Homo sapiens: one gene and its partner. The protein of the gene in region 1 interacts with the protein of each later gene in a biochemical or structural test. Each region holds a gene or a part of one and is shown in the gene's direction. Other genes may lie near its edges.

The links.
Region 2: of the proteins of ETV1 (region 1) and MAPK8, one has a biochemical effect on the other in vitro, tested with the Homo sapiens proteins (one study listed by BioGRID).

Annotation. Positions count from the first base shown.
Region 1 is NC_000007.14:13,933,853-13,937,680, reverse strand, and holds part of ETV1 (ETS translocation variant 1), read left to right. Parts: intron 1-1,784; coding exon 1,785-1,973; intron 1,974-3,828. UniProt on the Homo sapiens protein: Transcriptional activator that binds to DNA sequences containing the consensus pentanucleotide 5'-CGGA[AT]-3'. Required for olfactory dopaminergic neuron differentiation; may directly activate expression of tyrosine hydroxylase (TH).
Region 2 is NC_000010.11:48,309,447-48,313,274, forward strand, and holds part of MAPK8 (mitogen-activated protein kinase 8), read left to right. Parts: intron 1-3,828. UniProt on the Homo sapiens protein: Serine/threonine-protein kinase involved in various processes such as cell proliferation, differentiation, migration, transformation and programmed cell death.

The DNA of each region.
Region 1 (3,828 bases):
AAGTACTGTGTATCCACAGCATAATTATTTAACATATTGAGGAATTTCTAGTCAATGGCAGTTAGATATAGAATTGTCATTGCCTTTCAGCATTAATCAGAATTGTGACTGTGAAATCATCACTGTTTTATATGCCATATCTGACATCCACAAATCAATAATAAAGGAATTGCCTGAATATTTTGTGTTTCTTTTGGGGGATGAAAAGTCCCCACAGTGATATATGGCATATGCAATAAATTCTGGTACTTCCATCGCTATACAGAAAATATTATTGAGTACAGCATTTCATGGGGGAATAGTATCATTTGTTTCTTCATTCATGAGAATGAGTTAGGTGAACCATTTCACAAAAGAAGTGGGTTTTTCTTCAGAAATACTGGTAAAGAACATAGGTGGAACCAAACATGCAATTCATTATATGAACACTGTTGACTTTGCTTTGAAGCAAGAGCTGCCTTGTGCAGCATATATTCCTTTACTCCTTGTAAAAGATTTTTGCAGCTGGATATAATTCCGTTGCATTGATGGAGCAACAGAATAAATTATTACATAATTTAATTCAAAAAGAAATATTTCTTTCTAAAGAAAAAAGTGTACTGATGATTGCTTTTTATTTTATTTTACTTATTTTTTTTTGAGACAGGGTCTCACTCTGTCAGCCAGGCTGGAGTGCAGTGGCACAATCTGGGCTCACTGCAACCTCTGCCTCCCGAGTTCAAGCGATCCTCTCACCTCAGTCTCGTGAATATCTGAGCCTACAGACATGCATCACCACGCCCAGCTAATTTTTTGTATTTTTAGTAGAGACGGGGTTTCACCATGTTGCTCAGGCTGGTCTTAAACTCCCGTGCTTAAGCGATCCTCCCACCTCAGCCTCCCAAAGTGCTAGGATCAGGGGCATGAGCCACTGCGCCCAGCAAAATGAAATACAGCATTCTAACTTAGAAATGCCCTGTTGTTAAAAAAAATTTAAGAAAATTTAGTTTTAGTAAAATATTTTATAGATGACCAAAATTAGCTAAATCACATTCCTGAAAGTTACACCTAGGAAAGCAGTTTAAAATCATAATGTAAAATCAAGCTTACTCATTTTATTCTTCTGTAACTGTGTTTAGAAGTTAGACTATAATAGGATTTTATTCCTAATGACATTATTTTTTACTTATTCTCTAAGAAAGTTTAAATATATCAGACATTTTAATTTACCTCATTAATCTTCATTATCCCATGTGGGGAAGTTAATGCCAAGCATCATTTATTTAATATAATAAAATGAAAATAAAGTAAAAGCATTGCCTTCTTAAAATCCCACCACAAATAAAAGCAAGCCAGGTGTGGTCTCTGCCTTATTAAGCTGATGTTAGTTCTTGTTTTAAAATCTTACATAATATAAAAGAAGAATATAATATCAGAAGTATTTAATGATTTAGGAAAGATCTATCAAACTTTCTCAAATAGATATATCAAGAATAGATGGAAAAAATACCACTGCTTTTTTGGACGTAATTTTCCCTGTACTAAGTTGTTTGTATATGCATTAAAAATACACATTTAATATTTGTTCTGTTACAAGGTTTTGCATTAATCATCCTATTTTCTGTTTAAGGGTGTTGTGATTTTGAAGTTTATCTGTTCTGGATTTAAACAACAATAGCAACAACAAAGTTTTCATTTCCATTTGACTTAAGTCTAAAATATCTTTTCTTCCTTTGGATTAGAAACTTTTTTAAAAAATTGCTCCAAAGAAAGAAATGTTCTCTCTTCTTTTGTCCCCTGGGTAGTGCCTATGATCAGAAGCCACAAGTGGGAATGAGGCCCTCCAACCCCCCCACACCATCCAGCACGCCAGTGTCCCCACTGCATCATGCATCTCCAAACTCAACTCATACACCGAAACCTGACCGGGCCTTCCCAGCTCACCTCCCTCCATCGCAGTCCATACCAGATAGCAGCTACCCCATGGACCACAGGTAACCTGCAGATACCAGTTTTCTAGAAACTGTTTTTTGCGTTCTTGGAAAAAATTTCTATTAACAATTCTGAAGGCCTAGAGTAGATTTAAGGTGAGCCTATTAATTTTGCACATCTGTGCAAAATATTTTTAGAAAGAGCTCACTCTATCTATACTTATAATTTGTGGAGAAAGTCATTTATAAACATTCCTTTTATAAACATTTAAATTGGTTGCTAAAATGGAAAATTAATCTATCTACTGACATTTGAGCATTTCCCTTTCGCTTTGCTTGAATTAAATTGCTTCACTTAAACTTTAAATCAGATCATCCCATTTTTATGAGCATATGTGTGTACTTGTTCTGTAAAGTTAGGAGACTAATTTTAGTAGGTAGCTTATGGAATTAGGTTTTCTACCTTATATTGAATGGTTCAGCTGTACATAGTTTTGCAGAATATAACTTATTTGATTAAAACTGTTGACCATCTTTTCCAGGTGATTAATATTTAATATCAGTAGACGCATGACTCTGGACACTGCGAATATACAATTAAAGAGATAGAGACTCAATTAGTATTACTTAGAAAGGAGCAAGGCAAGAAGCATAGCATAGATCTAAGGAGAATACTGCGTTAGGTAATTCATGACTCCTTGAGATTAAGAAATTCATATTTAAGTAAAATACTAAATAAAACCTGTAGAGGTTCTGAGATGTACTACCTTAATATACAGCTTAAAATCAGGTTGCTTATATACAGCATCTCTCCTTCTTTATCTCTTCTGCCCTGTGCTTCTGTATGCAGTGGCGTGCTGGTAAATGTTTAGCAACAGCCTGCATGAGAGAAAAACAAAACGCCCTCATCAGTAGCTTTTGCTGGGTCTGTGATGTACATATTGCTTTCATGGCCCACTACGAGCCATCACTGTGAGAACCCTGAATGCCGAGTTGCAAAGATGCAATAGCACAGCGTAATGTAGTATTTCTAGCATACGGATACCAGAGACATAAGTAACCTCAGGTGTATAATTGGTAATGAAATGTAGTAAGATAATTAGAAAGTGATGAGTTTTGCATTTTTATCTTCTGTTTTTAACATATTTTTTGATTGTGAAGTTATATAATTTAACTGTTAATAGTGGCTGTGTTTAAGAACTGGCTCAAAAAATTCCTGCAAGTTTGACAATAAGTCAGTGCAAACTGGCCCTGAGACACCGTTGTAAAAATAACTCAGCCAAAGGAATCTTCTAGATCAGCAGAGGAAAGCAGAAGATGTGCCACTGGCAACTTTCTGAAAATAAGGGAGCACTCAAATGTGCTTTTTATAGGTTTTTTCATGGGACTCAATCTCAAATTCAGAAACTCATTTTGCTATAAAGGGCGTAAGATGAAAGCGTTCTTTACAATGTGATACAAAGCCTTGTCTTTTCCACCCTTGGTTCCATCACTAAGTCCTCTTGTGGGGTAGTTATTAAATGCTTCCTATTATCTTTTTCTTCTCACCCTGTAGCCTTGAGACTTTGTCAGAGTGCAATGGTATGTGCATCTGTGTAAACAGTTTTGTAAATACAGATGAAAGAATTCTTATTGCAGGGTGGGCCATTAAACAGATGGACATTGTGCAGAGCTGAAAGGGAACAAAAAAATATGAACAAACCAAGTTTTATTTTCTCCACTACTGGTGACTTCTGAGTTCTTGATAACTGAATCTCACTCTTCTGATCAGTGCCAGAATTATAGATTGTATAATTCGCTTTTTGTGCAAACTGGTTATTTCTTAGGGAAGGTGCCTGCTGAATAAGCAGTGTGCCTGGTTTTAGGTGACCTAACTTGAAATGCTTTAGCCAAATTCATTTTAGTTTCTCTACTTGAA
Region 2 (3,828 bases), on another chromosome or scaffold:
GGCAGAATAGGAAACTATATCCTTCATACTCCTTTAGATCCTGGGGGAAATGCCATTTGGAAAGGAAGTCAGTGCAAGAATAAATTGTATACAAATTAATGTGGTTATAATCTTAACTATTTGCTCCATGCCTGATATTATCAAAGTGACCTTGTGAGGATGAGATGTTCAGTGAAACAACTTGAAGGAATTTGTTGTTAAATGACTAGTCCCCAACTATCCTAGTGCTAAGAGGTTGTTGAATAGGAGCCTGCTTCTTGTTGGTCTGCTTTGCCAGCGGGTTGAATTTTGACATATTTCAGTCATCTACATGGTTGAGATGCTTTGTTGCACGAGTGGAAATACAAAATAATGTCTGACATTAGGATTCCAGTGCTCTAGAGGTCTCTGGTCAAGTCAATGGTATGGGTAGTAGCTTTTCTGATTCATGTGGTCCAAGGAAGTCATTATAACCACATAGCTTTATATATGAATCATTTGCCTATGTCAGTGAACTGTGATGCTGATTGTCTTAATCATGAGCTCTTTACCTGAACATTTAGAAGCCTTGCATTCTTACTCTTAATGCAGGTTAAGTTGAACTTTGATTTCAGAAGTGAGTTGACTGAAAGGTAACAGGAGTATTGAAATGAGTTATCCTGTCATTCAGGTCAATAGGTGGAGCTAGAGCAATCCAGGAATCAGACCTAGGTTCATTTCTCAGTTCTGCCATCTGGACTTTGTCATCAAATTCTGGAGCTTTAGGCAAGTGCCTTAATGTTTTTGGCTTTAAAAGTATAAACTGAGGCTGTCAGAACTTTTTTTTATAGAAGGCTTGTTCCTCAGATAGGTGGTTCTTGAGAAAACATACTAGGACAAAAAGAGCCCTTCTTGGGTGATAATCAGAAGCCTAAGTTAAGAACAGTAGTCAAAGTTAGGATTTTGTAATTTTGTAATTTTCAGAAGCCAAAAAAATTGTTGAGTTGAATTTTTTCTTTAATATCCAGACTTAGAAAACAAATGGAAGGCTTCACCATAAGCTAGAGATTCTTGGAAAGGTAGGCTTTTATTTATTCCACAGCATCATGCCTTCTAATGAGACCGTATGCTCCCAGAGACTTTGTGGAAGACATAAAATGAGTTCATTATCCTCAGGAAGCTTATAATCAAGGATTAGACTGAAGGCATCGCTAAACAGTTAATTTATGCTCTTTTAAAAGGTATATGAAAGGGTTCCCGCCAAACAAAAGCCCACTTCACATCTCTGTGCAGGCCAAATTTCACTGAAATCCAGTTTTTAAAATTGTGTGTGTGTGTGTGTGTGTGTGTATGTGTGTATACGTATGTGCATGGAGAGAGACAGAGAGGAGACCCCTTTTTGGAAAACTTAGTAGCTTCCATTCTTTTTCTTGGAGGTGGGTTATATCACAAATACAAGAGATACCTGTGTTTCCTGTTACCCTTTATTATATTTCAGATTTAGTTAAAATCTGCCATTCTTTAGAAAGTCAAGGAACTCAAACCTTACAATGATTGCTAGCGTGGGTTTTAAGGTCAGCCCTGAGTTCTAATCGTGCTCCAATCTAACTGTGGTATAGGCTAGTTCAGGTTATATAACATATTTGGGCCTGTTTTATTATCTGTCAAATGAGAATAATAATAGCACGTAACCTCATAGGGCTGTGAGGTTTAAATTAGGTACTGCATGTAAAGTGCCTGGCACTGTTGTGGTGGCTGGAATGCTAGATACAAGTATTCAGGTAGTTTTTGCTATTGTTATCACTTATATTTAACTTTGAACAAACATAAAATGCCAAGTAAACGTCAAACCAGTTTAATGCACAGTGTCCATTCTAATTCTCCAGAATATGCCATTTGTTTCACTCTGCATCTCTGGGGGGTTTATTTAAAATTCGATCATCTCATGTAATCTGAATTGACTGAGATGATTTATATTAACATTTGGACCAGTAATCCTCTCTATCTTAAAATTTGGAAATGTTCCAGAAGCAAATATTGAAGGGAACATATTTGCCACTTTCACGATTTTTTGCCTTTTCCCACAGGAGAAAATTGCCTAAGCTTTCCTAGGTTTGTTATAGACATCTAAAGGAATGAGAATTTAGGAGCTACGAATAGCTTTATCATGTGACACATTTGAAGAAAATGGAATGCTGTCACATCTTTTAAATTTAGTGTTATTGGGATCTTCGATTCTGTGAAGATTGCAGATTTGTCAGAGACCTGGTAACCACAACAATTCATTGAGGCCTGGAGGCCTCTTAAAAAATGAGGGAGATTATTTATTAGTACCACTTAGAAATATTATCTTTTCTGTATTTTCTGTGGTTTTCTAAGTCTTCTGTTTAGCGTTTCTATGATTATAATGGTGGATTAAATTTCTTGTTCCTTCTCAAGAGCATCTACTATGAGATGACACTGGTTTTTACTTCGGCAGTATTTACTGAGCATTGCACTATACTAATCCAGGTATTCGGTGATGTAGGAACCAAAGGAAATAGAAGTCAGTTTCTACCCTCAGTGAGCTGAGTATAATTTGATAGAAGATAAGGATTAACGTAAGCACATTTATGTCCTAACACAAGGAAGCAAATATTGTTAGTCATTTCATTAGGAATTTCTTTTGTCATTGGGGCATTTGGGGCCTTCCAAACCTTACATCTCTTGCCATGCCTTTGTACTCACTCGATAAACCTGAGAAAGCAAGATATCTTCTTTTCTGATTCCTGGTTTAAGTTGAGAGTGTGGTGCACATTAGTCAAAATCCAAATCATAAGAAAAGGCAAACCTTATGAATTCATTTTGGAATACAACAGGGTATCAAAATAAGTATATGAGAAATATGAAAAGCTGACAGTAGAAAAGATGCTACTCAGGTACTAACCAGAGTTCTCAATCTCCTCTGTATTGAAGCTCTTATGATGTAAGGCTGGATCTGTACTAGAAACACTTTTTAAAGTCTCTCTCCAGTATTGAGAAGTATAGTCCTCCAGTACTGCCTCTTGGTGCTGAGAGACTCAAGCCTGCCACCCACCATATTTCTGGGGAAACTAGAAACGAAAAATAGCCACACACAAGCACTTGCTTTGCTTGGCAGGAAACATCAAAACCATAAGATGTTATTTCCTAAAAGTCATTAATTGGGTAGAAAAATCACCATTTTCTGACTTGTTCCAGGAAGGATGGCTTTCTGATTTTCAGATGCCATTGGGTCAACCAAAGGTAAGATAAAGAAAAGCTACTGCTGTGTGGATTTTTCTGTGACTTGAGAAAGCGTCACTTTTCAGTTAAACAAAAACCAAAGCATCTAGCTTTGGCTGTTACTATTGAGAATTTAAAAGTCTTAATGTTTTAATTTGTTTACATTTTATATTTTGACTAAGTAGTAATGAATTCACTTTGACTCAAAATTCCAAAGATTTAAAAAGATAAAGAATCTCCTTTTCTACTCTGTGTAGCCACCTAGTTCTTCTGCCTGGAAACTGTTAAAATTCCTGTGAATACTTCCAAAGATAGTTTATATATGTTTAAGTATATAATCCTTTGTTCAAAATCCTTGGTCCAGATGTATTTTAGAATGAAGGCTTTTTTTGCAGTTGTGGAAAGATAATGTAGCACATCTACCGTGTTATCCAAAATCCCTAGTAAGAGGTTGTAGCCTCATGATTAAACACATTAACATTTCTGTAAAAAATACAGACATAGGCCAGGCGCGGTGGCTCACGCCTGTAATCTGAGCACTTTGGGAGGCCGAGGCGGGCGGATCACCTGAGGTCAGGAGTTTGAGACCAGCTTGGCCAACATAGTGATACCCCGTCTATACTAAAA